Linked DNA regions of Homo sapiens. The protein of the gene in region 4 interacts with the protein of the main gene of each other region in a pairwise test. Each region holds a gene or a part of one and is shown on either strand. Other genes may lie near its edges.

The links.
Region 1: the proteins of MGST3 (region 4) and AQP1 interact in binary tests that used the Homo sapiens proteins (3 or more experiments, as listed by UniProt).
Region 2: the proteins of MGST3 (region 4) and ITGAM interact in binary tests that used the Homo sapiens proteins (3 or more experiments, as listed by UniProt).
Region 3: the proteins of MGST3 (region 4) and PLN interact in binary tests that used the Homo sapiens proteins (3 or more experiments, as listed by UniProt).
Region 5: the proteins of MGST3 (region 4) and TMEM120B interact in binary tests that used the Homo sapiens proteins (3 or more experiments, as listed by UniProt).
Region 6: the proteins of MGST3 (region 4) and PLP1 interact in binary tests that used the Homo sapiens proteins (3 or more experiments, as listed by UniProt).
Region 7: the proteins of MGST3 (region 4) and CACNG1 interact in binary tests that used the Homo sapiens proteins (3 or more experiments, as listed by UniProt).

What each region holds. Positions count from the first base shown.
Region 1 is NC_000007.14:30,918,353-30,921,852, reverse strand, and holds part of AQP1 (aquaporin-1), read right to left. Parts: intron 1-3,500. UniProt on the Homo sapiens protein: Forms a water channel that facilitates the transport of water across cell membranes, playing a crucial role in water homeostasis in various tissues.
Region 2 is NC_000016.10:31,322,475-31,325,974, reverse strand, and holds part of ITGAM (integrin alpha-M isoform 2 precursor), read right to left. Parts: intron 1,577-3,500; coding exon 1,422-1,576; intron 1,325-1,421; coding exon 1,193-1,324; intron 1,018-1,192; coding exon 944-1,017; intron 713-943; coding exon 571-712; intron 476-570; coding exon 353-475; intron 1-352.
Region 3 is NC_000006.12:118,554,796-118,558,295, reverse strand, and holds part of PLN (phospholamban), read right to left. Parts: intron 1-3,500. UniProt on the Homo sapiens protein: Reversibly inhibits the activity of ATP2A2/SERCA2 in cardiac sarcoplasmic reticulum by decreasing the apparent affinity of the ATPase for Ca(2+).
Region 4 is NC_000001.11:165,651,734-165,655,233, forward strand, and holds part of MGST3 (glutathione S-transferase 3, mitochondrial), read left to right. Parts: intron 1-244; coding exon 245-302; intron 303-2,545; coding exon 2,546-2,618; intron 2,619-3,500. UniProt on the Homo sapiens protein: Displays both glutathione S-transferase and glutathione peroxidase activities toward oxyeicosanoids, as part of cellular detoxification as well as synthesis of bioactive metabolites.
Region 5 is NC_000012.12:121,775,252-121,778,751, reverse strand, and holds part of TMEM120B (transmembrane protein 120B), read right to left. Parts: intron 3,144-3,500; coding exon 3,030-3,143; 3' UTR 1-3,029. UniProt on the Homo sapiens protein: Necessary for efficient adipogenesis. Does not show ion channel activity.
Region 6 is NC_000023.11:103,783,340-103,786,839, forward strand, and holds part of PLP1 (myelin proteolipid protein), read left to right. Parts: intron 1-2,242; coding exon 2,243-2,429; intron 2,430-3,125; coding exon 3,126-3,387; intron 3,388-3,500.
Region 7 is NC_000017.11:67,047,554-67,051,053, reverse strand, and holds part of CACNG1 (voltage-dependent calcium channel gamma-1 subunit), read right to left. Parts: intron 1-3,500. UniProt on the Homo sapiens protein: Regulatory subunit of the voltage-gated calcium channel that gives rise to L-type calcium currents in skeletal muscle. Regulates channel inactivation kinetics.

The DNA.
Region 1 (3,500 bases), on a different chromosome or scaffold from region 4:
CCAGCCCCTAATACCTGCCTAGACCCAGGCCCCACTCTGCCTAGAAGCTGGAGAGGCCTGGGGTGAGCTGGGGCCTTTGCATCCAGCTGCATCCAGGCCAGGGTATTCTGGGGTACCAAGACCAGAGGCAAGGGGCGAGCCCCAGGCATGAAGGTGATGGTCAGGAGCACTCCTAGGAGAAGAGATGCAAAAAGGTGGGAAGGCCCAGCAGGGGACACGGCTTCATACCCAAAAGTCCAGAACATTCCACCCCATGCCCGACTGCATCTAAATTCCAGGGCTGAGGAGGCCTTCGGTGAGGTCCTGGCTCCCTCCACCCCTCTTTCTCCTCTGTGCCTGCCTCCCTATTGTCTCCACCCTCTCTCTCTCCTTCTCCACCCCGTCTCTTTCCTTGGTCCAAGGCCTGTCTCCCATTGCTTCTGGCCCTGCCCTCCCTGTCTCTCCTTCTCTCTTCTTCCTCCCCACTGCTGGCCTCAGCCTCACCCTCCCTCTGCCTGGCCAGATAGGCCCCGCCACCACCGTCTGGCTGCCACTTACTCCTGGGCCACTTTTAGAAACATGACTCATGGAAAGAGAAGGGAATGGAAGCTGCTGTGAGGTCATGAAGGCCCTCCCCATGCAGCTGCCCCCGGAGGACCCCTCCCCAGGAAGCCCCAGCACCTTCCACTATGCTTTGTGGCCGTCCCAGGGGCTAAGTGCACTCACACAGGGGAGATGGACCACATCAGCAAAGGCTCACTTGCAAAGATGCCCACTTGAGGCCACTTAGGCTGCCTTCTCCCAGGCAGGGCTGGTGCACCCAAACACTTCCCAGCTGGGAGACAAACTACCCAGCTCCCATCCTCAGGATATGGGAGTGTCTCCAAGGCCATAGAGAATTTTGCAAAATCCAAGGTAGGGGGGCACACCTTGGAGGTTTTCCCAGCCCCACCCTGAGGCCATCCTACAAGAACAATTCTCTTCCCGCCTTTGTCTGCAGCCCTGGGTTACAGGGAATGACTCACATCCCCTCCCCTGCCTTGCAGCCCCAGCTTTGGGCCTTTCCTGGCGGACCCCAGGGCTACATCCCTTAGGTCCGCCAGCCCTCTGGCCAATGCCCAGTTCCCTTTCTGTCCCAAGGTTGGGCCAAAGAGGCAGAAGCCCTGTGTTCAGGTTCTGACTCTTCTACTTTCTGGCACCATGAGCATGGCCTATTCCCTCTGGTCTTCAGTCTTCCCATCTGCAAAATGGATCTCATTGTCCGTGCCTGCTCTCCAGAGCAGCTGGGAGGTTCAAAGGCCAAAGGGGCCGTCTCAGGGCTTTTGGAAAGAGTTGTCGACGCAGGAGGGATGGGGCAGTGGTAGTGACTCTTGTTTTGGTTCTTCTCATTGTGTGTGCAGGATCTGGGGACAGGCAGAAGGAGTGACGGCGGGTGGAGCTGCTGGCAGAAGCCTGCCCAGAGTTAGGACAGGCTGAATGGGGTTGAGGCTGGTGAGGCCAGCCCGGCTAGTCCTGATGCCCACCCACACTTGCACCTGTGAGGCCCCTGTCCCTCTGTATCTGAGCCCTCAGGAAGCTCGTGGCTCCTTCTATTCCTCTCTCTTCTGCTCTCCAGGGTTGGCCTAATTGCTAGCTGGCAGAAGTCCTGAAACCAGCCCTTCCCCGATGATTAATGGAGTCATCGCTGTAAGTGGCTCCCGCCTTGGAGAACCCTCCCAGCCCCATCCCTCACAGATGTGACCAGAAAGAGCTCATCTCCTCTGGTTCTTAACCAGGTGCGAGAGCCCCAGCCCCTACCCAAAGACAACATGCTTTTCATGCAAAGTGGGCAGAGCAGAGGGTGATAGTTCCAGGCCCTGTACTCTGAGTCCTTGGGAAGGGGAGGGGTCAGCCACCTGCCCTGGGAATTCTGGAATGTGCCTTCGTGACTGCTGAGAACCACATGGGCTGACAGCCTTCCTCTCCAATACCCACTACCACTACCACCAGGAAGCCTCCCCTGATAGCTTCAACATCTACTGACAACCTTCCTTCAACTATCTAATACACTTGCATTATTTACATCTGGAAACACTTGATAATTCAGAATTGGAAGGGGCACTCAAAGGCCTGTTGAAACTCAATGTCCAGGAAAGAGCAGGTAAAATACTTCAAATGTACGTTACTGTTTACAACCCATTAAATTTGAAAACTTGCTTAAACAAGGACAGTTCCCATTGTAGTCACTTGTTTTATATATATGTACATATATATTTGCACATCCCCAGGTAGTTTTGCCTGGCCCAGGTCTTATTAAGGCAAAAAAAAAAAAAAAAAAGTAAGAATCAGAACAATTCTCAATTCTCAATTCTCAATTGTCTTCCCGCTTTTGTCTGCAGCCCTGGGTTTTGTGAATGCAAGTATTACCGAAAGAATAATCCACACATTTCTTCTGAAGTGTCAGAAAGATACAAGCTCTCCATTTTGTGCTAAGCCCTTGTAAGCCCACTACTCAAGGCCCAGTTCAGACCCCACCAGCTCCTAGAAGCCTTCCCAGATCCCTGGCTGGAATTAACTTCTGCTCCCACCCACCATGCCCTCACTGAATTCTCTGTGCATCTTGTAGGAAATCAATCTTCCTGCGGCCTATGTGGGTGCATCTCCTCCTGGCCTGGGAGCTCGGTGAAGACAGAGTGGGGGACCTCTGCCATTTCTCTGCCCACGCCTCTGAGGGGAGGCTTACTGTGTGCTGATAGAAGTGGCAGAGAATGCTAATTTTCTAGAACTCCCACCCTTGCTAGGGGCAGCCTGGCTCCAGAGATGCTCTCCGGACCCAGGGCGGTCTTCTTCACTTTCTAGCTGGGAAACAATGGGCCAATCATTAGCCTCTGGGAGCCCTAGAGGGCAGCCTGTGCGATGGCTCAGTGAGATGATGACGCAGAGGCTGAGGCCCAGGGAGGATGCAGCAAAGCCAGGATCCTTGCCCCATAGTCTGTGCCACCCTACACTCACAGGTCAATGGGCTGGCCACTCCTAGGCCCAGTCAAGGGACCTGGCTATTCCCAGCTTGGACTTGGGAGCTGGCAGAAGGTGGTTCTGTGGCTGCCAGTGTGTCCTGGCTCTAGGGCAGCCCAGGGATGATCTCTCCAGGCAATGTGCTCTAAGCACTCCCTGCTACCCATAGACAGGCCAACCAGGGTGGCTTCCAAGGCATGGGGCCCCTGACTTGGCCTGGGCACCCTGGTGCCCTGGCCTTGGGGAAGAGCAGGCTCCAGAGCCAGGCCTGACTGAGGCTCTGAGCTTTCGTTCTCAAGGGATAGGAGACATCGAGGCCTGCCCTGCCCACCCCAGTGCCTCCAAGACTCAGCACTGGGCAGTGAGGGGACCTATGTGGGCTCCAGAGTGTCACTCCTCCATGGGTGTTCACACGTGGACATGGGGGGATTCCTGGTTTTGTGTGCCTCTGTGTGTCTTTGTAGATAAGTGTCTGCTGTGTCTGTGATGACCACATGTGTCCAGGGCTGACTCCCTCTTTCTCTTTT
Region 2 (3,500 bases), on a different chromosome or scaffold from region 4:
CCCACCCTAGCCTCCCGAGTAGCTGGGACTACAGGTGTGCACCACCACGCCCAGCTAATTTTTACATTTTTTGTAGAGACAGGGTCTCGCCGTGTCACCCAGGCTGGTTTCAAACTCTCGGGCTCAAGCGATCCTCCTGCCTCGACCTCCTAAAGTGCTATGATTACAAGCATGAGCCACTGTGCCGGGCTTGAAATGTATGCTTTAAATAGGTGAATTGGATGGTATATGAATTATATCTCAATAAAGCTGTTTTGTACAAAAAGGAACCACTACTAAAGAAGAGAAGAAGAAGAAAAGAATCCCCAAAGAAATCAAAGAGAAAAGGAGGGGAGGAGCCAGGAGTTCTGACCTCTGAGTTTTCCGGGAAGATGGGGTGGTTTATGCTGCAGCTGGTGCTCTTCAAGGCCCCAGACACTTCGGTGGAGGAGGCAGACTCACAGGCCAGGCGCCAGGATCGCTGTGAGCGCTGGTTCTGGAAGGCAGGGGAGGCAAAGGCGGTGATATCCACCTCCGGCCGTGAGGATGGGGAAGCAAAGGTCAGATAGAGCCTGAGAAGGATGTGGCTACCTGGAGCGTGGACACCTTCCGGTAGGACAGGTCAAGCGGGAAGAAGAAGGTGACCTGTGTCCTGTAGGAGTCCTCACCATCATTTCTCACAGTCACTGTCACGTTGAACTCCCGGGGCCCACCCACCACGAGGCAGTCCAGGCTGTGGGAAGAAGAAGACAGGCCGGGGGATGGGGCGCTGGGCTTCCCTGTGGCAAGCCTGCTCCAGCAGAACAGAGACGCAGACACTTGATGAAGAGACAACAGTGGAGGGGCAGCCACACCGGACCTTATAGCCCAGGAACACCCGGCTCCCTTGGGGGCCAGGAGGAGAAAAGAGCGGGTCATGGTACGGGTCCTTCTCTGGAGGAGGTGAGGAGGAAAGGAAACTCACCTCATGAAACTGAAGGTGATGCTGAGGTCATCCTGGCAGATGTTGTCATTGCCACAATTCTTCTCAAAGGGAAACTTTTAAAAAATAAATATGATCAAATGAAAGGAAAGAAAATAACCAAGTATTGTGAAATTAAACAATAAAATCAAATGTTGAAGTAAAATTAGATGCAATCAAATAAAATGAGTTTCAACCACCTTGGTCTCTGGTCTCTTCCACACCCCTGCAGGACCCCAACTCTGGACTCACCAAGGCTGTGAAGAGTCTCTGAGCATCCTCCGCCAGCACTGGCCGGAGGTTCCCGAAAGCAGACAATGGCGTTCCCACCAGAGAGAAGTTCAGGCGCAGCACAATGGGGCTCACTGGGTCCTCGATGCAATTCTAAGAGATAGCCGGGATTTGGGGATCTGCCCTCCTCAGCTCCCCAAGCCCACTCCATGCTTGGAAGACCCAGGGGTCTGGCCACTAGCCTGCTCACCGGCAACTGTAGTTTCAGGGTCTCACAAGTCTGGGTCAGCCCCAAGACCTGTGTCTGTCTGCGTGTGCTGTTCTTTGTCTCATTGAAGACGGCGCGGGAATGTGGGCGGCCGGAGTCCAGAGCCAGGTCATAAGTCACAACACTCTGGATCTGTCCTGAAGGGACAGGGTGGCACAGCAGTGAGGGGCCTGAGCCTCGGAACCCGGCAGATGGGAGTTCAAGGCCCAGCTCCTCTGCTTCTCAGCTGTGTGACTTGGGGTATGTTATCTGACTTCTCTGAGTCTTCTTTCCTTCCTTCCTTCCTTTTTCTTTCTTTCTTTCTTTCCTCGCTCTCTTCCTCCCTTTCCTTCCTTCCTTCCTTTTTTCCTTTCCTTTCCTTCCTTCCTTTTCTTCCTTTCCTTCCTTTCCTACTTTCCTTCCTTTCCTTCCTTCCCTTCTTCCTTCCTTCCTTTTCTTCCTTTCCTTCCTTTCCTACTTTCCTTCCTTTCCTTCCTTCCCTTCTTCCTTCCTTCCTTTCTTTTTATTTTTTATTTTCTTTTTTGAGACAGAATCTCACTCTCTTGCCCAGGCTGGAGTGCAGTGGTGCCATCTCAGCTCACTGCAACCTCTGCCTCCCAGGTTCAAGCGTTTCTCCTGCCTCAGCCTCCCAAGTAGCTGGGATTATAGGCACATGCCACCACGCCGTGCTAATTTTTGTATTTTTAGTAGAGATGGGGTTTCACCATGTTAGCCAGGCTGGTCTCAAAGTAATCCACCTGCCTCAGCCTCCCAAAGCGCTAGGATTAAAGGCATGAGCCACTGCGCCTGGCCTCCATTCTTTATTTTTAAAGTGAGGATAATAATGATACCCTCCCAATGGTAAAAAGGAAATGAAATAGTGCTTATCAAGTATTTAGCACAGTGTCTTTTATACAATAAGTGCTCAATAAATGGTAGCTATTCTGTCACTCACTAAAAAATTTATTGTATTTTTCTGACTACTTTAAATTTTTTTCTCTTTGTCTTTGGTCTTCAGCAGTTTGATTATAACGTACAATGATATAATGTCCTTCATATTTATCCTGCTTTGATTTTGTAAAGAATCTTGATGTCTTTCATCAGTTTGGGGAATTTTTTTTTTTTTTTTTGAAATGGAGTTTCGCTCTTGTCACCCAGACTGGAGTGCAATGGGGCGATCTCAGCTCACTGCAACATCCGCCTCCCAGGTTCAATTCTCCTGCTTCAGCCTCCTGAGTAGCTGGGATTACAGACGCATACCACCACACCTGCTAATTTTGTATTTTTAGTAGAGATGGGGTTTCACCATGTTGGCCAGGCTGGTCTCAAACTCCTGACCTCAGGTGATCCACCTGCCTCGGCCTCCCAAAGTGCTGGGATTACAGGCGTGAGCCACCGTGACTGGCCAGTTTGGGGAAATTCTTTAACTACTGCATCTTTCCTATTCCATCCTATTCCATCTTTCCTATTCTGTCTTTCCTATTCCATCTTTCCTATTTTCTTTCTCTCTCTCTCTCTCTCCTCCCCCACCACCACTTTCTGTAATTCCAATTACATGTTTGTTAGATCTTTCACCATATCCCACACATCTCTTATGGTGTTTTTCTGTATTTTTCTTTCTTTTTATCGCATATTTATCCAGATACTTTCAAATGACTGTCTTCTTGTTCACTAATTCTCTGTTCTGCTTCTAATCTGCTATAAATCTATTTACTGAATTCTTCATTTCAGTCAGTGCGATTTTTGGTTCTAGAGTTTCCATTTGACTCTATTTTATGAATTCCAGGTTTTTGCTGAAGTTCTCATCCTTTCCCTTTTTTCTTGAAGATATTAATTATAGTTACCTTTTAAAAATTCCTATCCAATCACTCTAATTTCTGAATCACCTGTGGGTCTATTTCTATTGTATATTGTTTCTCTTGGTTGCTAGTCAGTTGTCTCAATGGAAAGACCAAGGTATTTACCAAGGCCTCTCAAATCTCTGTCTCCCCAGCACTGAGGAGCTGCTGAATTCTCTGATCAGCTCTTTGGCTTTTCAGTTGCTGTTTTCTACTGGGTGTCTTGGAGTACTGACCTAGGCAT
Region 3 (3,500 bases), on a different chromosome or scaffold from region 4:
TATGAACTATGTATACATTTAAGAAAGATTAATAAAAACCAGATAGGCCAGGTGCAGTGGCTCATGCCTGTAATCCCAGCACTTTGGGAGGCCAAGGCGGGCAGTTCCCCTGAGGTCAGGAGTTTGAGACCAGCCTGGCCAACATGGTGAAACCCTGTCTCTACTAAAAATATAAAAATTAGCTAGGCTGGTGGCATGTGCCTGTAATCCTAGCTACTTGGGAGGATCGCTGGAGCCCAGGAGGCAGGGGTTGCATTGAGCCCAGATCATGCCACTGTACTCCAGCCTGGGTGACAGAGCAAAACTCTGTCCCAGGAAAAAAAAAAAAAAGCCAACAAAGATAATTACCCAGTATTTGGTGAATCAGTGAGTAACAGTGGTTGTGGTGGTCTATTAAAAACATGGAATCATGTTTGAGAAATGAAAATTGTCAGGAGCACATCCAGCTCCATGCAGATCAAAAACAATTCAAATACGGTGGGATCTCTGAGTGCTTTTGTGCCATAGCGTTTATTGTCATGCATTTGTATGATCACCGTAGACTTTACCAATTTTTATTCGATAATAATTTGTATTCATCCATTCATTCATTTTTCAACCCTCTTATTCTGGTTTGGGGTGCTGGTGGCTGGAGCCAATCCCAGCAGCTCAAGGAGGGAGGAACCCACCTTGGATAGGAGGCCACTCCATCACAGGATACACTCATGTACACACTCACACTCAACCCAGGACAACTTAAACATGCCAGTGAACCTAATGTGCACTGTTTTGGGATATGGGAGGAAACCAGAGTCCCACAGATGTGGGGAGAATATGCAAGCCCCACACATACTTAAATGTTATAACAAAATGACATAGAAATGATGTTATTTGAGGACCTGCTGTATTTGGTTTAAGGTACAGCTTGTTTTGGGTTATTCTTTTGGGTAAAAGTTCTAACATATAGTTTCTTTAAATCTGTTACTCTGTAGATGTAATTGGTTTGATCAGTCACTGTATTAATAGCTCCAGAGCCAATCTCATAAAAAGGAAATGCATACAACAAATTGTTCCCTGGATCTTAATTTTAATCTAAAATAAAATAGTGTTAAATGGGAAGTGTTTTACCAAAAATATAGATTCAAATTGTTATTCCTTTTTATGATTTTATAGTTTTATAGAATGTTATCTTAAGTAACATTTTAATAAGATTTGATGTTAAGTACTGAAGACTGTCAAGCTTGGAACACATAGTAATTATTATTATCTCACTACCACAGACATATCCTATTTACAGACTTCTACTTAATAGTAGTAGTTTCCATCATGCCTTCTTTCAGAGATCCCACAAGCTATTGCTGCCTGTGGGGCCTATACTTTGATGATTAATAAAATAAGAATTTACATGTCATTACAGAAAAATTATATATAGACTGAAAATTAACTGTATTAACTGTCCAGAGATAATCGTTATTAACACTTGGGGACATTTTGTTTTCAATCAGTATACTTATGTGTCAATTTTGAAATAAGAAAAATGAAAAACGGAGAAAAAAAGTCAGTAATTAACTGCCAGACATAGTGACTGTTAACATTTGTTGATATATTATTGTTAATCAACATATTACTACCTTACCCCAGGTGTCAGATTTTATTTTCTCCTAAGTCCTTTTATACATCCCATAAAAGCCCATCTCAACCTGTTAGCCCATTCCTGAGAGAGGAAAGTGCTGAAGGGAGCAGAAGGAAGTGCTGAAAGAATGGCAAAGGGGAAGGTAAGTATCAGGCATGACTAGTTAGAACCCGGCATTTACTTTGGCAAAGAAACCATATGGTTTATGGTGTTTAGATTCTGTAGTGTTCAACTTGGGTCTATTATATTCTGAATTATATAGTAGACTGGGCATTTTTGGCTTGAGACTCTGTCCCCCTTCATAATATTGGTCTGTAGCAAGGAGTTCCAAACACTCAACTTCTATCAAATTTTCTTTCCTTAAAGAGTTATTAACTACCTGTATTTTTCTAGCATATATTCTTCATTGTCTAAACAGGTGGCTAAAGGCTGTTATTTAGGTTGTCTATAACACTTCTACTTAGAAAATAGCAGCTTATAAAAGCAGAACTACCATTCGACCCAACAATCCCATTACTGGGTATATATCCAGAGGAGTGTAAATCTTTCTGCCGTAAAGACATACACCCATGAATATTCATTGCAGCACTATTCACAATAGCAAAGACATGAACCGGCCTAAGTGCTCATCAGTGACAGACTGGATAAAGAAAATGTGGTACATATACACCATGCAATACTATGCAGCCATAAAAAAGAATGATATCATGTCTTTTGCGGGAACATGGATGGAGCTGGAGGTCATTATCCCTAGCAAACTAACATAGGAAAAGAAAACCAAATACCACAGGTTCTCACTTACAGGTGGGAGCAAGATGATAAGAACTTATGAACACAAAGAAGGAAACAACAGACGCTGGGGTCTACTTGAGCGGGGAGGATGGGAGGAGGCAGAGGAGCAGAAAACTGTTGGGTACTGGGCTTAATAACGGGATGATGAAGTAATACATACAACAAGCTCCCCATGACATGTGTTTACCTGTGTAACAAACCTTCACACATACCCCCAAACTTAAAACAAAAGTTAAAAATAAGGGACATAGCAGCTTAAACTTGACATATATTTAATGACTTTTGTTTGAATTCTTCAGGTAAAATATAAATAGATTTTCTTTTGTTCTTTATTGAGATTCATCCTTTAAGTTGCTTATGTTGATATTTGCTTATGTTGATATTTGCTTATTGTAGATCTAGTGGATTGGAAAATTATGGGAAGATTTTATTTATATTTGAGTAGTCACTTTTTTTTTTTTTTTTTGAGACAGTCTTGCTGTGTTGCCCAGGCTGGAGTGCAGTGGCACGATCTCGGCTCACTGCAAGCTCCACCTCCCGGGTTCACGCCATTCTCCTGCCTTAGCCTCCCGAGTAGCTGGGACTACAGGTGCCCGCCACCATGCCTAATTTTTTTGTGTTTTTAGTAGAGACGGGGTTTCACCATGTTAGCCAGGATGGTCTCGATCTCCCGACCTCGTGATCCACCCGCCTCGGCCTCCCAAAGTGCTGGGATTGCAGGCGTGAGCCACTGCACCTGGCCGAGTAGTCACCTTTTATGAAGATGTGTAGCAGAATACAGTTAAGAAAGGAATAATAATTAGACTTGGTAATTCCTATTTGAACATATGGTTTTGTGAGGTTTTTGGGCTTAAGTGGTCTTAAAAGGTCAGAAATTTTAAAAATTATTTTGAGACAAAACATGGGAAAGGAGGGAGTTGGCCAGGAGTTTATCATGAAGCATATACAGGAGTCATCCCCTACGTTGACACTGGTAAGTTGTACTTCAGTCACATGAAACATGTCACCTTTCCATAAATACTCCATTCCCTTTTGTGATTTTGTTCTTTGCACATGTTGTTCTATCTCTGCCTGGAATGTGTTCTCCACCTTTTGA
Region 4 (3,500 bases):
TCTCTACAAAACTTAGCCAGGCATGGTGGCACGCACCTGTAATCCCAGCTACTCAGGAAGCTGAGGCATGAGAATTACTTGAACCCGGGAGGCGGAGGTTGCAGTGAGCTGAGATCATGCCACTGCATTCCAGCCTGGGTGACAGAGACACTCCGTCTCAAAAAAAAAAAAAAAAAAATTCATAATTCTACACAGGCATACTTAAAAAGGGCACTTTTTAAAAGTTTCTTTCTGTCAATTCCAGGTTGGAAGTGTATCCTCCCTTCTTATTTTTTCTAGCTGTTGGAGGTGTTTACCACCCGGTAAGTTTTCCAGGAGGTGTTCATCTATTTGGATAGTAGTTCACTGAGCTATTATCAGGGACAGAAGAAGGAAATAAACATTTAATGAATATCTTCAGTGTCTAGGCACTGCATATTTAAAAGGATTTTATTCAATTATTTCTTACAGAGTTCTTTAAAGGAGATGGGATTTTCCTCATATTTTACAGATAAGGAAAAGCCTCTCATATACTATTTAAACTTCACAAGGTCAAATAGCTACAGAGTAGAAGGATTAGAATTTGAACTCAGGTCTGTCTGGTTCTAAGTTTCATGTCTATAAGAGTTCATTTGTTATAGTAATTCATTCACACAACAAACTTTCACTCACCACCTGGGGTAAAGCAGTGATCAAAGCAGACAAAGACCCCTGGTTTCATAGAGCTTGCCTTTTTGTTGTGGGGTGTGGGGTGGTCACAGAGAAGAAGCAACCTAAGTAAATTACATCATGTGTTAGGAGGTGGTGAGTGCAGAGAAGAAAACAAAGTGGGGAAGGTGGAAAGGGGATGTGGAGTGGGATAATTTTGAATAGGGTGGTCAGGGAGGGGGGCTTTGCTGAGATGATAGTTAAGCAAGTATAAAAGGAGGTGAGGGAGCAGGTGCTGCACGAGTTTCCCCAACCTCCAGCCAGAAGACAAGCAAGGCCTGAGGCAGGCACCTGTCTGGTTTGTTTGGTGAGCAGTGAGAAGCCAATGGAGCCAGGAGAGGGGCAGCAACAGAGGGCAGAGGGGTGATGAGGCAGGTCACTGGGGACTTGCAGGCCTCTGCAGTATAGATAGCCCTGTGGGATGGAGATTTAGTCTGCACTTAAACATATCTAAATAAAGCAAGTTTATCAGCCTCTAATTAATTGCCATTTGGGTCTTGTCTTAGACAGAAGTGTTCCCCTTTTCTGAGGACAGATTATCTCCTGAAACCAAGTTCTGACCAGAGTGGCCCTTCAGACTTCTGGTTCTAAGCCTTTCCTAACCATCTGGTTCATCCTGAATGCCTTGTACTTTTGTTAAAAAGCTGCCAGAATGGCATATCTACTGCTTATGACCTTGAAGGCCTGCATTTTTTTCAAAGAAACATCTACTGCTCTTGTATCTCTTAGAAAATGTATCTTTCTGGTGCCTCTAAAGATCCCCATTCCTAGCAAGTGACTAGACTAGCTGATCTGAATAGCTCAGGTCTCTAGATTAGTCCTCATTTGGTGTCCCCACTCCATCCCCATTCCTATCACACATCCCTGGATCCCATTCCTTATGGGTAGTTCTGAAAAATAAGAGCTAGTTTGGGGACAAGCACCTAACAATTGTTCCTAGGTTGCCAGTCATTAGGCAACATTATAGTAAAGAAGGGCCTGGCAGAGACTAGAGCTGCTATATCGTGACTTGAGGGACTGGTGTTATTTTCATTTGTTTCACCCTCCTGTTGACATTTAATGTTACCCAAAATCAACTCAAACAAACAAAAACCCTGATGCAGTAACCTTATCCCTAACAGTAGCACTGCTGAGTGGGAAAGACACTGGGGAAGGCGGCCTTCTCACATGCTGTCTTCTGTGTTCTCTCCTTGCTTATTTTAACCAAGGAAGTCACCCCAGCATGACAGCCAAAGGGATGGATTTTTCATCTAAGTTTTTATTCTCTCTTCTCAAGGACATTGGGAACAGGGAGACTTTTCCCTCGAAGACCATGTATTCTGGGAGAAGCGCTCCCCTTCTTTCTAGTGGAGCTACACCCCCAGTGTAGCCTGCAGAACCACCTGAGCCCAGCCCTGCCAGTGACTGACTTCACATAGAACAGCAGCTGAGTCTTCAGTCAATCTCATGCTCAGAGGCCCATTTGAGAAAACGGCATTTCCCCTAGTCCTGACTTTGGGGCAGTTCTCTTTTCTGGCCTGCCCTGAGACCGGCTGGCCCACATGTCCTTCTCTTGAGCTCTGACACAAGTTCCCCAAGATGCCCAGGGCAAGTGGGGGGATTCCTTCTATCCCACCTGTCTAGGAGAAGGCCAATACTCATCTCCCAGGTCCACAAGCCAAGCCATTCATAGAAGAATCACAGATATTTTATTTTCCCGCTGAAACTAACTTAATTCTACCTAATTTGCGTGGGGAGTAGTTGGCCAAATCATCAAATTGTTAACTTTTTGCTAACATATTGTGTAATCAACCCTAGGTGTTAAAAAAGGTTTGCTTGTTTCTTTCATGCAAATACTAATGTAGCCCTTTTTTCTTAGCGTATAGCTTCTGGCCTGGGCTTGGCCTGGATTGTTGGACGAGTTCTTTATGCTTATGGCTATTACACGGGAGGTTAGTATATATTGACATTTGCCAAGGAAACAACTTTAAAATTTTAAATCCTATGCTGGCCAGGCACAGTGGCTTACACCTGTAATCCCAGCACTTTGGGAGGCGAAGGCAGGCAGATTGCTTGAGCTCAGGAGTTGGATACCAGCCTGGGCAACATGGTGAAACCCTGTCTCTACAAAAAATACAAAAATTAGCCGGATGTGGTGGTGCACACCTGTAGTCCCAGCTACTTGGGAGGCTGAGGCGGGAGGATTGCTTCAGCCCAGAAGTTTCAGGCTGCTGTGAACCATGATTACACTACTACACTCCAGCCTGGGAGACAGAGCAAGATCCTATCTCAAAAAAAAATAAAATCTTATGCTACTATATTTTTTTTCTTGGGAATTTGAGAAAAGGGGAAGTCACCTGATATTTAGGTGAAAGGTCTGTTTTCTTTTTATTAATCTTTCAATTGTAACGAAACTTATTTTTATTGAGCATTTTCTATGTGCCAACCACTACTCTAAGAACTTTGCATATGTTATTTAACCTTACAACAATTCTGTAATACAGATATTATTGCATTTTACAAATTAGGAAACTGGGACTCAGCATGATTAAAGCTGTAGGTCACAGAGCTACTAAGCGTAAACTAGTAAACTAGGAATCAAACCCATGCAGTCCGACTCCAGAGCCTCACCATTACTATACCTCCTATATCTGAGTAAGGAGGAGGAAAAGCCATTTTTAGCTGTACTTCTTTGAAACAGAGGGAACTCCTTCCAAAGGTCCTAGAGCAAAGTTGCTGTAATTATTATCCCATAATTTTCTAAGATCCAAGCAATACTACTGTGGCACGTTACTTGGCATGTGGTATCTGACTTGCCAACAGCTTCAGGCTAA
Region 5 (3,500 bases), on a different chromosome or scaffold from region 4:
AGCAAGTTTTCTGTGGACTGTTCCCCCCACTGTGGTAGGACAGGACTGGCCCACTTAGTCCTCAAGCTCCCAACCTGCTGTCCCTCAAGCCCCGCTTCTACCAGCCTGTGGAGTTCAGGAGGCGAGACATCCTGGCCTCCTTTGAGAACTGATGGGATCTACCCCCTGTCCACGCGGGACAGTTTCTCAGAACTGGTTCATAGACCACCTGTGTCACCAACAGCCAGATACCTAATCCCTGAGCCTCCTTTGGGAAGGTCTGGGGCCGAGGGTCTGGGAATTTTTTTTTTTTTTTTTTTTTGGGACAGAGTCTCATTCTGTCACTCAGGCTAGAGTGCAGTGGCATGATCTTGGCTCACTGCAAGCTCCACCTCCTGGGTTCAAGCGATTCTCTTGCCTCAGCCTCCTGAGTAGCTGGGACTACATGCGCACACCACCACGTCCGGCTAATTTTTGTATTTTTAGTAGAGACAGGGTTTCACCATGTTGGCCAGGCTGGTCTTGAACTCCTGACCTCGTGATCCACCCGCCTTAGCCTCCCAAAGTGCTGGGATTACAGGCGTGAGCCACCGTGCCCGGCCCAGGACTTTTAAAACAAGCATCCCAGGGGATTCCGGTGCCTACCAGAAGTCGCAAGCTGCTTGGCTCTGGAGGGCGCCTAGGAGTCGGTGTCGCCTAAGATGGGATAATGGCTTCAGGCAACTCCTAGCCTTCCCCATATCTCCTGCCTCAGCCCCCCTGGCCCAGTGCTGGGGCGTCAGCTAAACCTGAGCTTCCAAGAAGTCAGGTTGCCAAAGGAAGGAGCCTTCTGAGACCCTCCCCAACCCACCCAGGTTCCCAAGGCCCTGCCGTACCCTGGGGAATCAACCAAGGAGTTCTTGTTCTCGAAGAACCCCAGGCCTCATGATGGTCTACGGTAGAGGTCCAACAACTACAGCCTGTGGGCCACATCTGGCCACAGCCTGATTTGTAAATAAAGTTTTATTGGAACACAGCAACACCCATTCCTTTCTGCATTGCCTTGTGCTCTGGGGCTGCAGGTGAAGAGTAGCTGCCACAAACCACCTGGCCCATAAAGCTCAAAATAGTTGCCATCTGGCCCTTTACAGACAGCTAGCTGACTCCTAATCTAGGGCAAACGCAGGTGCCTAAAAAGGACCAGAAAGGAGACCAGAATGAAGGGCAGGGGGGTGGCAGGGCCTGTGGCAACTGGAGAGTAGGCGTCCTGTGCCACGGGAATGTTGCCAGGTCCGTTTTTCTAGGGAAAGCAGAAATCTGGATTTTTATGTGGAATCTCACTGTAGGGGTGGGGAAATCTCATTTTAAAAATGTAATCAGGCCAGGCACAGTGGCTCACACCTGTAATCCCAGCGCTTTGGGAGGCCAAGATAGGAGGATGAGTTGAGCCCATGAGTTGGAGACCAGCCTGGGCAACATAGTGAGACCCCATCTCTACTAAAAAGTATTAAAAAGTAGCAGGGTGACCAGGCATGGTGGCTCACACCTGTAATCCCAGCACTTTGGGAGGCTGAGGCAGGCAGATCACAAGGTCAAGAGATCGAGACTATCCTGGCAAACATGGTGAAACCCTGTCTCTACTAAAAATACAAAACAAAACAAAACAAAACAAAAGCCAGGCATGGTGGCACGCGCCTGTAGTCCCAGTTACTCGGGAGGCTGAGGCAGGAGAATCACTTGAACCTGGGAGGCAGAGGTTGCAGTGAGCTGAGATTGTGTCACTGCACTCCAGCCTGGGTAACAGATCGAGACTCCCATCTCAAAAAAAAAAAAAAAAAAGGAGCAGGGCATGGTGGTGTGTGATTGTGGTCCCAGCTACTCCAGAGGCTGAGGTGGGAGGATCCCTTGAGCCCTGGAGGCGGAGGCTACAGTGACCTATGATGCCACTGCACTCCCGCCTAGGCAACAGACCCTGTCTCAAAAAAAAAAAAAGTAATTAAAAATTTTAAAATTCCTTGAGGAGGGCTAAACAAGGCATGCCTGTGGGCACTGCTGTGAGGTCTGGCCTAGGGATTTGTAGGGCCACAGTTAGGGGGAGCTGAGGCCCATATATGAATGGTGGGGCAGAGCACTCAGCCAAACCTGGTGGCCTCTCTGCCTCCCGTCGAATGCAGAATCTCACCCAAGCGATGCCCAGTGGCTCTGACCCCGCCTCAGGGTGCGGCCCCTGGGGGTGAGCCTGCCAGGCACCCCCACCTCCCTCCCACAACATCCAGAAGCTCTGGGAAGGAGGGGGGAGGTGGTTCCCCTCCACAGGGGCCAAGGGTCTTGGTCCCACTCTCCAAGTACCTGCCACGACACTGCAGGAAGGTGGGCTGCAGGATGGGGGGGTCAGGGAACCCCGAAGCACAGACGGGAACGTCCTTGTCCCCTTGGACGACCCAGGGCCCGGGGCGCCCTCTGGTGGCGAATCTTCTCACAGCCTGACTCAGGATGCCCCCAGCGCTCCAGGGGCAAGAAGAGCACGAGGCAGACGCGGTGGGTCTCTGAGAACTTAAAATAACCCTCACCACGTGGCGGGGTGGGCGAGGAGGGGGCTCACAGCAGAAGCAGAGTGGCCCCGGGGTGGGGGCGCCACAGGACACTGAGGGTTCACACCACCCCAGCCTGGGCCTGGTAAGTAGCAGGTCAGCATAAATCCAACCCCGCGAGGCACATCCAAACCCCACCCAGAGGGGTTCAAATGACAGGAGTGGGAACAGAGGGGCTCCCTGAGGCTTCAGGCCCCATCCCCAGGAAGACTGGCCCGGCCTCAGCCACCTTCAAGCACAGGAGTGAGGCCTCGGGTTCCAGGGACGATGGGGGACCCAGCATTAAATATGTCATAAATAGGTGGGCGGACACTGTGCGGACAGGCGGGGCTCACATTCCTCTAGACCACTGGGGTCCACTGGGGGACCAGGGCCTGGGCCCTCTCCCAGCGATGCCACGGGCCTGAGAGGGCTGCTGGGAAGGAGCCCGGGAGCCCCCTGCAGTCTGAAGTCCGGGCCGAGGGCACAGGAGCCCGAGGCTCACGGCTGCTTTGTCTTGCCTCTGTTCTTCTGGAGCTTGGCATGCACGACTTTGAGCGTGGTCAGGAAGTTGCCGAGGAAGAGGATGAGGAAGGTGAACGCCAGTACGAACACCTGGGGGAGTCCAGAGAGGAGGGCGAGGCTGGGGCATCTGCCCTGCTGAACCCCTGCCCCCAGCACCCCAGAATCTCCAGCACAGCTGCCCCCAAACTCCCAAACTGCAGGGTTTTGCCATCGAAGGCAGAGATTCAGGAGACCTGGGGGAAGGGTGAGGCCTCAGGCTTGGGCAGGGCCTGGGAAGGGCTCGATGGGGCGAACCTCCTTGGGATCCACAGATTGGGAGAGGCTCCACCCCTAGCCCTTCCAGAAGCCTCCCGCCAAGCAGGCCCCCCACAACACCCCACACCTGCCAGCCCAGCCCGCCCCAGGAACCTCCCCACAGCACACCACACACACGCACACACCCCACCC
Region 6 (3,500 bases), on a different chromosome or scaffold from region 4:
AGCACAGCTACAGATTGCTTCTTATAGAGGCCAAGTTTCCTGGCAGCAATGCTTTAGTTCTTGGAAAAGGAAGTTCTGCTCCAAATGTTAGCTGCTTACTTTGTTTGGCTTGGGCTTCTGAGGCTCATCTTTGGTGTGACACTCTTTGAAGGCCAAGAAAGGGCTGTCATTTCAGGGGATGGTGGGTAATAGGACTCACTCCTTTTGTGTCTCTGAGAACAGAGGCAAATGCCTCTACCTCGATTTTCCCATGACAGAGATAATTTGATCTTTCCAAATCTGTTCACACTGATGCAATTCAGCCATGTAAATCACTAGGTATTCATGCTCTCTGGGCTAAAAACAAACTGTAACTAATGTTAACAGAATCAGGAAAAGGAGTCCCCTTTCCCTGGTACCCTATAGAAAAGTGAGTGTGGCTTGGAGAAATGCTTGAATACAAAAATCCAAGCCTAAGTAATTAATACAATTTATTTTTATTGTACAAGCTGTCACAACCTGCTTATTCAAAAATAGCAGCTTCCCAGTACATTTGCTGAGTATTTGTGTGTGTGCATGTGTATACTGTGTTTATAGATATATAAAATCAGTGGGTATATATACATATATTTATATATATACATACATATGAATTAAGACATTTTTTCTGAAGAGCTTAACATTCTCATTTCTTCTACATTTTAGGGATCTGGCCGAGAGGCCAGAGGAAGCCATTCTTTTCCTCATCTAGTCAGTCATCTACTTGGCATTTGCTAAGGTTCACTCCATATGACATCTTAGAGCATGGGACTAGTACTTGGAACACAGCTGCTTTCAGAGCCTGTGACTTCTTGTGTGCCTCTCCTGTTTCTCAGCAACACTGGCATAGGGCCTGGGATACCAGGTCTGGGGATCTCAGGGACTCTTAGCACTTTAAGACACATGTGTTCCCAGGCCCTGGTGTGTTCCTCTAGTGCCAGAAAGATGTTTCATGCTTTGCTGACTTTGTATAAAGTCTGTTTGTAGCTGTTTTGACAGAATCTCAGCGTATAACTGAGGGTGGGGACATTAGCCAAGCTGCATTATAGGAGGACAAAACTGCCATACAAAGTGTCCAAAATCATTAAGCCTGCATTTTTATTATTGGGAGTAATATCAAACCTCCTATTTTCCAATTTTCATTTCTTGTCCTGTGCTAGCTCCATCCTGTTTGGACTGCTCCTCCCATATGTAAACTAAGAAGAATCAAGCATTCTTTGCAACAAATACACACGATGCTCAAAAATGTCCAGGAGCATCCAATTTCCAAAGTTTCCTCCACCTGGAATGCTCTTCATGCTAAAATCCTGTCTGACAATACCAGCATCTCTGGCCTGCACTCATCCCTTCCTGGAACTCCAAGTGCATTTACCCTCTGTTACCACTTACTTGGCTGCCTGAATTGTTAGTTGAAAATATTAGGTCTACTTAGCTAATTCTTCCTCAGGAAATTAAAGACTCCCATATGGCAGAGTCTGTGTCTTTTCTCTCTTCATATCCCGTATAACACCCAGCATAATGCTGGGCATATAGTGAGTATTCCATAAATAGTTGATGAATGACTAAAATAAGCAAGCAAACAAACAGACTAGAACAATAAGAAAGAAGGGACTGATTTCATAATCTCTCTGGCTTGCTATTTGAATTGCTGAATTATTATTATTTATTAAATATTTTTTAAATTCTGGCAATAAAAGGTAAGGATTTATTTTCTTTCTTTCTTTTTTTTTTTCTTGAGACAGAGTCTCGCTCTTACTGCCCAGGCTGGAGTACAATGGCGCAATCTTGGCTCACGGCAACCTCCGCCTCCTCCTGGGTTTAACAGATTCTCCTGTCTCAGCCTCCTGAGTAGCTGGGATTACAGGCATACGCCCATGCCCGGCTAATTTTTGTATTTTTAGTAGAGACGGGGTTTTGCCATGTTGGCCAGGCTGGTCTTGAACTCCTGACCTCATGTGATCCACCTGCCTCAGCCTCCCAAAGTGCTGGGATTACAGGCATGAGCCACCGTGCCCGGCCAAAGATTTATTTTCAAGAATGAAACAAAGTAAGGATTCTGGGTCAATCTCACATGCTGAAAGCCAAAACCTCTAGCCGCTCCTGCTTTTTGACTTCGGAGTGCCCACTATCTCCGAGCCTGTGAGCACAGGGCCTGGCAGAGGGGTTTGAGTGGCATGAGCTACCTACTGGATGTGCCTGACTGTTTCCCCTTCTTCTTCCCCAGGCTTGTTAGAGTGCTGTGCAAGATGTCTGGTAGGGGCCCCCTTTGCTTCCCTGGTGGCCACTGGATTGTGTTTCTTTGGGGTGGCACTGTTCTGTGGCTGTGGACATGAAGCCCTCACTGGCACAGAAAAGCTAATTGAGACCTATTTCTCCAAAAACTACCAAGACTATGAGTATCTCATCAATGTGTAAGTACCTGCCCTCCCACACAGACCCATCTTTTTTTTCCCTCTCTCCATCCTGGAGATAGAGAACTCTTCAGTACCTTAGTAACTAGCAGGGGACTGGGGTGGAGCCAGACCGGATTCCCGAGTCTTCCCTCTGTGCAGATCTCTCCTGCTCCACATTCGAAGCCCATTCAGAAAGGAGGGGTCTGCCTGCCTGCCTGTCAGCCCCTCCCACCCCCGCCCCCTTGTTTTCTTACACGTGTTCTGACTTCTGCTAGGTGTGGTTCATATTGCCCAAGTTGGAGCCTCCAGCGTAGTAGGTATGGAGAAGCCAAGGGAGGCACTAAGCCTCTCCTGTTCCTAGAACAAGTTAGGCTCCTGTTCCTTCACCCACCTTTCTTCTTGTCTAGCTCCCTACTCCTGTGAGTTAGCATGTCTGAAGGGTGGGGCAGGGAGAGTAGGTCCCTGGTTCTCCAGGTCCCAGGGTAAGCAAGGTGTGGCGGGAGGGGCATATGTTTCTGGTCACATACACCCTGTCTTCACTTATTTCAACAAAGATAAGGTGAAAGCATGCAGGAGGAACCTGGTGATTCCTCTAGAAAATCCCTAGCCTTGTTAAGGTGCTCGCTCTGGTGTATACCTCACTTATGTCGGGAAAGAAGCCAGGTCTTCAATTAATAAGATTCCCTGGTCTCGTTTGTCTACCTGTTAATGCAGGATCCATGCCTTCCAGTATGTCATCTATGGAACTGCCTCTTTCTTCTTCCTTTATGGGGCCCTCCTGCTGGCTGAGGGCTTCTACACCACCGGCGCAGTCAGGCAGATCTTTGGCGACTACAAGACCACCATCTGCGGCAAGGGCCTGAGCGCAACGGTAACAGGGGGCCAGAAGGGGAGGGGTTCCAGAGGCCAACATCAAGCTCATTCTTTGGAGCGGGTGTGTCATTGTTTGGGAAAATGGCTAGGACATCCCGACAAGGTGATCATCCTCAGGATTTTGTGGCAATAACAAGGGGTGGGGGAAAATTGGGCGCGAGTCTGTGGCCTCGTCCCCACCCAAGGCTGGGTCCTCTCTAGGGGCCTGGCATTTGA
Region 7 (3,500 bases), on a different chromosome or scaffold from region 4:
GCCCTGGCTTCCATCACACTTACACAAAGCTCAGGGATTGCAGCTTTGCTTCCGACTAAGTCAGCAAAGATTCCAATGCCAGGATGATGATCTGGGGTGTTAGGAACTCTGAGGTCGTGCCATTCTCCTTTGTCTCTGCAGATGGCTTATGCTGATTTTAATCTCCTTATTTCTGTAAGACTCAGCGGTTTAAAAATATTAAATGGGTTATTTATTAAAAATATGGTGAACTCAGCTCTCAGACTTGACTGGGGGATGGAATAGTCTGGCTAACCCAGTGTTCTGGTTAAGGGCATCAGTAACTGTGCAGAACCATGTGTAGTGTGCCAGTTTCAAAGAATTAGAGCAGAAGCCACATTTAGCTCCAAGCTGAACTTGAGTTAATAGGGATCTTTCTTTGATAGTTGGAACAGCTGGCAGGATTAGTGGATGCCTTGGGTTATCACTGAGAATGTATCAGTGTGCCAAGTGACTGTCCATGGAGACTTTCATATATTCAAAGATACTTTGTGGATTTGTCCAAAACCAAAGAAACTGGTACTTTAGGGGTGCAAGGAAGCCTCTAACTTGCATTGATGTCAGTGTTGTTTTTAGCCTTTTGGTAAAAGAAGTTCTATCAGCTCCCAACAGTGGTTTCTCTGGGCTGTGTCTCCTTCCACATCTCTGATTGAAGAATTTTATAAAATGGGCTGGAAATCTCCAAGACCTGACCCTAGAGCTTCAGAGCACTGCTCTTCCATGGGAGAAGCCTGGCTTTGGCCTAGGCCTCTGGCATGGACTTCTGTGGGTGGTGAAGTGAGCCCATGAAATTCCTGGGGTCAGTAGTATCATGCTCTTTTATACAATCCCAGTTCCCGCACTGAGAGAAGATGGACCAGTAGGGAAAATGGGGCACTAGGCAAAGTGGGCCCTGGGGCAACCTGCCTCCTTGCCCTAAAGAGGCAGAGTCTGAAAGAAGCAGCACTTCACCCAGCCCAAGGGCAGGGGATGGCCTCTTTGCGGGTTCATTTGGACTTTCAGAACACATAGTCTCTCCTTTGGGAGAGGCTCCTACTCTCATTCTGGAGGCATTGGAATTGGTCTTGGATGTTGATCTTGTACATGGAAGTCCTTCTAAGACTGTTTGGAGTCTAAGACTGTCTAATTTGGAAAAATTAGACAACTCTTGCCCACTGAGCCTCCAACATTTTAAGACTAAGTGGGACCTTGAGAAGTCTGCTCCACTGCACCAGCTTCTGGTCCAGCTGCCCTCAAACTATGCCATGTCAAAAGCTGGACTCCTTGTGTTCACTTGGGTCAGAGCTTTTAGGAGCTGTGTTTTCATGCACAATAGAGGGTGTGAGAAGGAACTGGAGGGAAAGGAGGCTCTGGATTCAAGACTTGAGTGGAGAACCTCTATTTGTTAGCTGGTTAGCCTGGGGAAGGCTATGCTCAGCCTCCCTGTTCCTACCTGTAGAATGAGACCCACCTGTAGAATGAGAACCACCTGTAGAATAGGAACCACCTGTAGAATGAGAACCACCTGTAGAATGAGACCCACCTGTAGAATAAGAACCACCTGTAGAATAAGAACCCACTCACTGGGTTGTTGTAAAGTAGTTAATGTATTGACTAAAACGGTGAATGTTAGGGTCTGAGTGTGAGTCCTGGCTGCTCTGCTCATCACCTGTGTTACCTTGTCAAATATCTCAACTCTCAGTGGTTGATTTTCTTTATCTGTAAGATTGGGATGATGATAATAGCATGGCCTTCACGGAGGTTTCTGTGAGGATTAGGTGAGCTAATATATGTATGTCATCCCACCACCTTCTGGCCTCCATAGATTTGGGGAAAAATTGGCTGTTCATCTTATTAAGGATTCCTCATATGTGGTGAGTTGTTTCTTTCCGTTTTTAAGATTCTCTGTCTCTATCTTTCAACAGTTTGATTATCATGTGTCTAGATGTGGATCCCTTAGAGTTTATTCTACCTGGAGTTCATTAAGCTTCATAAATTTGTCGATTTTTAACGTTTTTCATCCAATTTGGGAAGCTTTTGGACATTATTTTTCACATACCTTTTTTGCTCCTTTCTCTCTTTCCCTCTCCTTCTGGGACTCCCTTTACATAAACTTGATGGTGTCCCATAAGTCTCCGAGGCTCTCGTCATTTTTCTTTATTCTTTTTATCTGTCTGTTCCTCAGACTGGCTAATCTCAACTGACTTATCTTAAAGGTCACTGATTCTTTTGCCTGCTCAGATATGCCATTGAGCCCCTCTAGTGAATTTCTCATTTTAGTTATTGTACTTTTCAACTCCAGAATTTCTATTTTGTCCTTAAAAATAATTTCTGTGTCTTAATTGATAGTTTCTATTTCATGAGGCATCATTTTCATCTTTAATTGTTTTGATTGTTTTTTCTTTGGATATATTTACTATAGCTGATTTAAAGTTTTTGTCTAGTAAGTCCAATATCTGGCTTCCTTACAGATCTATTGACTTCTCCCTGCCCCATGTATGCCCCTTATCATTTTAGTTCTTTGTGTGTCTTGTATTATTTATGTATGTATTTATTTATTTAGAGACAGAGTCTTGCTCTGTCACCCAGGCTGGAGTGCAGTGGCATGATCATAGTTCACTGTAGTCTCTAACTCCTGGGATCAAACAATTCCCTCACCTAAGCCTTGGGAGTAGCTAGAATTACAGGCACATGCCACCACTCCTGGATATTTTGTGGGGTTTTTTTTTTGTTTTTTTTTTTTTTTTTGGTAGGGACAGGGTCTTGCTATATTGCCCAGGTTGATCTCAAACCCCTGGCCTCAAGCAGTCCTCTCACTTGGCCTCCAAAAGTGCTGGGAATACAGGAGTGAGCCACCACACCCAGCCAGTATTTTTTAAACAATATAATGTGGCAACTCTGGAAATCAGTTGTTCCCCCTTCTTGAAGATTTGTTCCCGTTGTTTGTTTAGTGACTTTTTTGAACTAAGATGGTAAAGTATGTGTTTTTTGTCATGTGTGATCACTGAGATCCCTGTTCAATTAGCTTAGTGACCAATTATAAATTTCCTAAAACGCTTGGCAACAATGCCTCTCCCAGTCTTTACTGAGGGGCTCTGTGCATATGACTTTCATGCTCAGCTAAGCCACCCACATCTCTGCCTTAGCCTTCACTTCCTGCTTGAACAGAGTCTCAAGATAAGGCAGAGAGTGCTTAGGGCCTTCTCAGGTCTTTCCTGAGCATGCATATAGCATTGTGCATGCATGTGGCCTCCTAGATTCCCAGGAATATGTTGGAGCTTTTCAAAGCAACTTATGGACATTTCAGTCTCCAGTTTTTTGGTTAGCCTGTTGTTTTCCCTAACTGTTATCTACTGCCTCAGACAGCCATGATGTTAATCAATCATCTCTAATTATTTTCAACAAACATCCCCAGGGAGAAAGACTATTTGCACTGGATGAGCTCAGAGTCAGGTCAAACAGAAACAGCTTCTCAAGTGGGGGTTTTCAGGGAATCACCAGAC